Homo sapiens: one gene and its partner. The gene in region 2 interacts genetically with the main gene of each other region. Each region holds a gene or a part of one and is shown on either strand. Other genes may lie near its edges.

Evidence for each region.
Region 1: changes in PDGFRA (region 2) and CFTR together harm fitness more than expected from each alone (negative genetic interaction), as found in Homo sapiens cells (one study listed by BioGRID).

The regions. Positions count from the first base shown.
Region 1 is NC_000007.14:117,608,968-117,612,799, reverse strand, and holds part of CFTR (cystic fibrosis transmembrane conductance regulator), read right to left. Parts: intron 2,282-3,832; coding exon 2,131-2,281; intron 1,220-2,130; coding exon 992-1,219; intron 1-991. UniProt on the Homo sapiens protein: Epithelial ion channel that plays an important role in the regulation of epithelial ion and water transport and fluid homeostasis. Mediates the transport of chloride ions across the cell membrane.
Region 2 is NC_000004.12:54,295,293-54,299,077, reverse strand, and holds the end of PDGFRA (platelet-derived growth factor receptor alpha isoform 1 precursor), read right to left. Parts: 3' UTR 833-3,785; downstream 1-832. UniProt on the Homo sapiens protein: Tyrosine-protein kinase that acts as a cell-surface receptor for PDGFA, PDGFB and PDGFC and plays an essential role in the regulation of embryonic development, cell proliferation, survival and chemotaxis.

The DNA of each region.
Region 1 (3,832 bases), on a different chromosome or scaffold from region 2:
GACAGATATAGACTCAAGAAGAAGAGCTGCAGCTGACTCTCTTGTGCCTGTTGCAGCTTCTTTAAGAGTCGAATGGCACCACCTTCTCGGTGTTCCATGAGGCCTTTCTGTAACTCCAGCAAATGCCTGCTTTCGGTTTGAGTAGAATTCTGTTCCTACAATCAAATGATCCTACAGATTTGGCATTGATTTGGCATTTGCTCTGCCAGTATTCACTGTCACATATAAGAAGTTATTTCAACACTTATCATAAATACTCAGAAATTCAAATTCTTAAATTAGAGAAACAAATTTACCTACATAGATTTTTATTTTACTTATTATGAAATACTTTGTTTTTCACTAAAGATCCTAAAATCAATCCAGAACATTTGTATTTGAAAAACATGGCACTTTCTTTTCTTCTTTTTCTTTTGAAAAATGTGACACTGTCTTTCTTTTCTGTGACAGTTTTTCTTTGTGTAAAACTCACAATTAGATAACAAATTTTATCTAGTAGAGATTTAAAAAAAACAAAACTTACCGACAAGAGGAACTCTGTGTGTGTGTGTGTGTGTGTGTGTGTAAATGCGGATGTTTCATTTCCCCTCTTTAGGAATCTATTAATTTTGAAGCTAGGACCCTTCACCAATATGAGTATGAAGAGGTGACATATTTCCCCTTCAATCACAGAATTGCTATCTGACAATCTGTGTGCATCGGTTTTTAAAACTGTGAAAACAGGGATAATACTATATATATATATGTATATATATATATATATATATATATATATACATATATATATATATATCCGATTTCAAGGAAATTATTTGTTTAACAATAAAACAATGGAAATTCAAAGAAATCACTTGTTCAATAATAAACCAACAAATTTGTTAATTACTAAACTCTAAAGATATCAAAAATTGATAACCTATAGAATGCAGCATTTTATTCATTGAAAATTTTTTACTTAAATGCTTAGCTAAAGTTAATGAGTTCATAGTACCTGTTGTTAAAATGGAAATGAAGGTAACAGCAATGAAGAAGATGACAAAAATCATTTCTATTCTCATTTGGAACCAGCGCAGTGTTGACAGGTACAAGAACCAGTTGGCAGTATGTAAATTCAGAGCTTTGTGGAACAGAGTTTCAAAGTAAGGCTGCCGTCCGAAGGCACGAAGTGTCCATAGTCCTTTTAAGCTTGTAACAAGATGAGTGAAAATTGGACTCCTGCCTGTGAAATATTTCCATAGAAAACATTGCAAATAACATAAACACAAAATGTAATTTCATAATATCTTGTACCTGAAAAAGACTAAATTAGAATAATCATATCACAAATGTCATTGGTTAAAAAGCTTTTTTTCACACTGGTGCCATTCTTTGAATAGATATGATTTGTTATTTTATTAATGAGTTACCCTCTTTTTTTACTTGGCTACCAGAGATGGGAACTTAAAAAATTACCACCAATATTTATTCCTCTTTCTTGGCTACCACTGGGAGTTTTCTGGCTAATTCTAAATTAATTCTTACTAAAAAAATTTTCTTTTAAGACAATTTTTTCAAGTATCTAAATTAAGGAAGTTTATGTGACTTGATTTAGCTAATAATCTACAAAGCAGAAATATACTGAAAAAGTATTGCCTGAAAATGCACCCACACTAAGGCTGTCACTGCAAAATGTGATTCCCTAACAGCTCAAGTAGAGTTTGGGGGCACACGAAATGGCAGCTCCAACACATGAAGAAAGGGTGTCTGAAGACAACAAGCCAAAGGGACAAATTTGGTCAAGTATCATTTGGGAACCCAGAGAAACCTTTAGTAATAGCAGCACTATCCTTGTTTAATTTGACTGATATAAGTTTATTATAAATGAATGTCCTGTACACCAACTGTGGTAAGATTCTATATACCTATTTTAAAACCAAAATGAAGTCACATGGTCATTAATTAAGAAAAAAAATCCATGTGTACTTTGTAATATAGTTTCCTTTTATATACACATGCATGTAGAAAAAAATTATTGTTATATGATGTAAAAGTTTAAAAGCAGAATTTTTTTTAAGTAGATTAACAATAAAGAATCTCAAATAGCTCTTATAGCTTTTTTACAAGATGAGTATCGCACATTCACTGTCATACCTTCAGATTCCAGTTGTTTGAGTTGCTGTGAGGTTTGGAGGAAATATGCTCTCAACATAATAAAAGCCACTATCACTGGCACTGTTGCAACAAAGATGTAGGGTTGTAAAACTGCGACAACTGCTATAGCTCCAATCACAATTAATAACAACTGTAAGATCAAAGAAAACATGTTGGTGAGTAAACATTTTCACATTGCAAAGTGGACAAAGTGTGTCAGTGATTTATTTCTTTTTTTTTTTTTGCATACTTTAAACACCTCAAACTTTTTTTTATTTTTTTTATTATACTTTAAGTTTTAGGGTACATGTGCACATTGTGCAGGTTAGTTACATATGTATACATGTGCCATGCTGGTGCACTGCACCCACTAACTCGTCATCTAGCATTAGGTATATCTCCCAGTGCTATCCCTCCCCCCTCCCCCCACCCCACAACAGTCCCCAGAGTGTGATATTCCCCTTCCTGTGTCCATGTGATCTCATTGTTCAATTCCCACCTATGAGTGAGAATATGCGGTGTTTGGTTTTTTGTTCTTGCGATAGTTTACTGAGAATGATGTTTTCCAATTTCATCCATGTCCCTACAAAGGACATGAACTCATCATTTTTTATGGCTGCATAGTGTTCCATGGTGTATATGTGCCACATTTTCTTAATCCAGTCTATCATTGTTGGACTAAATACTCTCCCCATTCTATTCCTAGTCAGAAAGTAGCCATTTGCAAGTACATTTTTCATAGGCTCTATGAAAATTTTAAAAATTGTTTAGGTCACTGATAACATTTTTGAAGTTTGAAAACATGGTGTTCTTTGATCTTTGGATATTTTCATTTCCCAGACACTTTAAAGTATTGCATGATAAATACATTTTAAGTGAATATTAATTTAAAATAAACTATTTTTAAATAATTTTAGTATGAAGGTGAATCTTAGGATTTATTTTGGTTAGACAGTTTTTGAAAGCTGGGCATTCGTCTTGGAGTCTTTTGATTCAGAAAGTTCTGCTTGAAATACAAGCTTGTCATTTAGGCAAGCTATCTAACCTTTCGGAGCATATTTTCTCATGCTTAACATTGAAATAAATCATACTTAATAAATTTCTATATTTCTACATTACACCAAATACATACATTTTTAAAAGGTACAAAGTCCGCTAACATGTACTTCACAATAATCCATTTGAATAAAGTATAAAGTAACTGTCTGCAGAAAGGATTAAAAAAAACCACTTTATAATATCCATATGCTGTTCAGTGAGCCAGTTCTCTACCCGTTACCATAAGTGACACATGTATTTTCAACTGATATAACTTTAGAACTGAAAGGGACCATTATCAGGTTTATATTCCCCATTCTACAAGTGACAAATCTGAGACCCTTCAAGATAAGTGTCTGCTCAAGGTAAAATAGTGGGAATCTGTAGAAAATAACCAAGATTTTCAATTTTCACTATACAGTGCTCCAATCCGGAAAGCAAATTTGTCAGAACATTGTCAAAGTTAGAAAATAGAATGAAGATTACATGAGGTATCAAAATACTCAAACTCAAAGAAGCAAAGAACAGAACCATGGGTAACAGGACAGGGGAGAGAGGGAAATGGGGAGATACTAATCAACAGGTATAAAATTTCAGTAGTGCAAAATGAATAAGTTCCAGAGATCTGCTGTGCAACATTTACCCATGGTGAACAATATTGTAT
Region 2 (3,785 bases):
GATTACATAAAGTGAGAACCCATTTAGGTAGATATGAAGCAAACGTAGAGATGTGTGTATGGGAATATATATACACAGATGCATACAAAGGGAACTGGAAGTTTAAAAGACACACCAAGTGGTGCAGCTCTGCCTCTTGGAAACAGGACAGGGACAGGGAAGAAGACACGGTGAAAAAAATAATTTAACATTTTACTTCCTACACTTTTACGACAGTTGAATGTTGTACAGAGTTACTGCAGTCCTGTATTCCTTATGCAGGGGAAGAAAACACCACAGGATAAAGATGAACAATCAAAAAAATGATGAGACCAAAGATGAGCCAAGTGCCAATCATCTTTAAGTCAAATACTGTGTCGTGGAACAATCTAGCTCATATAATGTCTTAAACCTTAGATATTCTATTGGTTCATCAAAAGCCTAATAAAGGCCAGGCGTGGTGGTTCACACCTGTAATCCCAGCACTTTGGGAGGCCGAGGCAGGCAGATCATCTAAGGTCAGGAGTTCGAGACCAGCCCGGCCAACATGATGAAACCCCCATCTCTACTAAAAATACAAAAATTAGCCAGGCATGGTGGCAGGCGCCTATAATCCCAGCTACTTGGGAGGCTGAGGCAGGAGAATTGCTTGAACTCGGGAGGCAGAAGTTGCAGTGAACTGAGATCACGCCACTGCACTCCAGCCTGGATGACAAGAGCAAAACTCCGTCTCAGGAAAAAAAAAAAAAAGGCCTAATATAGAGTCCTACAAATGTTGCTAAGAAAGTAAATAGAACAGGATTGCTTTAATTCTTATGATTAAACTAAAAACAAAAATGCTGAAACCTTAGTATAACTTTAAATTATATATCATTTATTGAAATATAAAGATCTTCATTTACACGTTTTAAAACAAAAACATGAACAGGGGCATTCGTAATACATTTTGTATTGGTAGACCCTATCAAGTTAGTTTTTCTCACACATTCACCACACCATTGTTTTGGGAACATGTAAGTATCTTTCTTTTTATTATTTCTAAAATATAAATTTTGGACATTCAAAAGTGCAACAGTTAATGTGCCTGTGGGGATTATCACAGTTAAAAAAATATAAACGAAGGCAGTGATACAGCTTGTCATAAATGTTTTGGCAGTATTCTCCAAGTCTATATAGAAATACATATATACATATTGATGTATAACATCATTTTATCTTATGTCCCTCTTCACAAAAATAGGACCATTTTGTACAGATTGGCAGACCACATTTTAAGGACATCACTAATCGTTTAAAAAGTCACAAATAGTGTTTCTCAGGCCGGCTTTGATTGTCATCATAAAAATAGAAAGTAGGAAAGATTGGCAAATTTTCTTCTGGAGACTTTGCAGGAGGCCAAAAGGAAACAAATCTGGAATTTGCTGAAAACACACACACACACACAAATGCAGTCATATACAAATTCAGGTGGGAGCATTTGTTAGGACTGGAAACTGCTGGACTGAGAAGTTTCATCCGGCCTCATGATGTCATGCAAGGCTCACAGCAATATCAAAATGCAAAGCACCAACAAAATAAGGCTGTACAAGGGAGAGTGAGCGATAAACAGAATGCTTGAGCTGTGATTCTAGAAACACAAACGTATTTCAAGTCTAATTGGCTCTACAGAACCTAGTCAGGTTTTCGTTTTTAATTGGCCAATCTGGCTCAGTCTTCGCACTTACTATGAAAAAGTTGGATAAGAAAGTTGGGGCTTGCATTGAGATTACACCAGTAGGTAGTCAAGTACTTTATTATTGCTTCTGCATCTTCCAAAGCATCATCTGCCGATAGCACAGTGATTGCAGTAATCACAGCCCATGTTTCATTCATATGGTATCAGCAATTAAGCAGTATTGCAAAGAATGCCAATGAACCCACACCAACCTGTTTGACAGTGTGGATAGATGTGACAATTCATCCTCCCATCTAACCTCAAATTATCAGTAAAACTTAAAATGTTTTTTCCACCAAAACACTGAGCTGGTTACACAGAGACTTGGAACACTGAATTGCATAATTTTTGTACATGCCTTTCCTTGGCGGGGTATGGAGTGGGAGGCAGAAGACGGGAGACGGGGAAAGTTCAATCTCCCCCATACAGTGGGAAGTAGCATCTTTACTTTTGGAAAACCTGTCAAAACCAAACTTTAGCTTTCTCAGCCTCAGCTAAGACTGGAAAGTTAAATTAAGGTCGCAATTGCTAGCTAGATGGCATTAAATGTCACTAACCTGAAGCCAAGGATTTAAATAGTAGGCTTCCTGCGTGGTTGAATGCCAACCCTGTTCCAAAGTTCAAATTATTTGTTTCCCATGGCAACTTCCTGAAACCTAAGTCAGTGTTTCCGAAAACTGGCCGATCAGAACAGCCAGGGAGTTTAGAAAAATACAGACTCTGGTTTCCCTCAGACTTCATACTTCAGAATCTCAAGGATGGAAACCCAGGATCTAGTCATCCTGGCTGCCACACACATTTGAGAACTGAGGATCCAGGCTAATGCACATCCAGCCTCCACTAAAGAATATCTTTATGGTCTCGAGTTTCAAACTCTTTCTCTTTGGGGTAAGGGGTGAAAGAAGGAGGCTGATGTCTGGGCATCCTTCTGACCCTTTTCAGGTTCATAGATTCAAAAAATACATATATTGGGGTCGCCAAAGCTTTCATCAGGCATGAAGAAAAAAAAAAAAAAAACTTCTGCAAATCCAGTCTTTTTGCTGATCATTATATTTTCCATTGGGTAATATACATGAGAAGTTATGTTCAGCACAGGTTTATGCCTCTACATTGAGAACTTTTAGGACTTAAGAGTTTTGTTTGTTTCTAATCCCATTATTTCAGAGGGCAGTTAATTGTTTTTTAATACGATGGATTGGGGAACCTATTCAGTACAGTTAAAAATTCTGACTTCCTGGACAACACTACTTTTACTTTGTTCTCTATGCTCAACTAAATTTAATTCACTAAAGCTATTACCATACTTTATAGAGAAACATGTTATTTAATATAAATGTCAAAAACTGTCAAACTCATCACCTACTTAGTAAGGATTGTTTTAAATTGTGCTTTCTCTGGAGGGAAATCATGTTACATTATTACACATTTAGCATTACTGATAACAGTAGTAGTATTATAAACATAGATTACAATATGAAAATGAGTTGTCAGGCTTCTAAATGACCCAAATCTATTAAACAAGGTTGGTTAATTATTATTCTTTATCTCTTTAACACTAAAAAAGATAGCAAAATGCTATAGTACCAGTACCTTTTAAGGTTCAAAAATGGTTTTTCATGCACTTCTTTAAAAAGTTCAACAGCAGCTGACATCAGGTTTCAAGAGGGAAGTACATGGATGGATTGAGTGGTCTCTTCAGAAGTCCAAAGAAGATAGTTAATACAATCTAAACACAGCCTTGGTTAGAGTTATTTACATAATTACAATGCTGAAGTTCTGTCGCAGTATAAATTGTGTCTGTTGGACTCTCACCAATGTCCTTGAAGCACAAAGTTCACCTTCTGTGGCCTATTATTCCCTTATCCATCTATCTCCAAACTTCACACACCACTGAGATGCTACTGAGGCATTGCAAGAGGCAACACTGACAAAGTTCATTTCAAAATATCCCATTCATTCATATTTAGAACGCTCCCCGAGGCCCTTGGCTGGGAACTTCTCTTTAAACATCAACCAAGTCCTCCTCTCAACCTCTGCATTGCAATAAAGTGGTTTTCTGAACGGGATCCAGAGGTGGCCCCAGAAGTGGAAG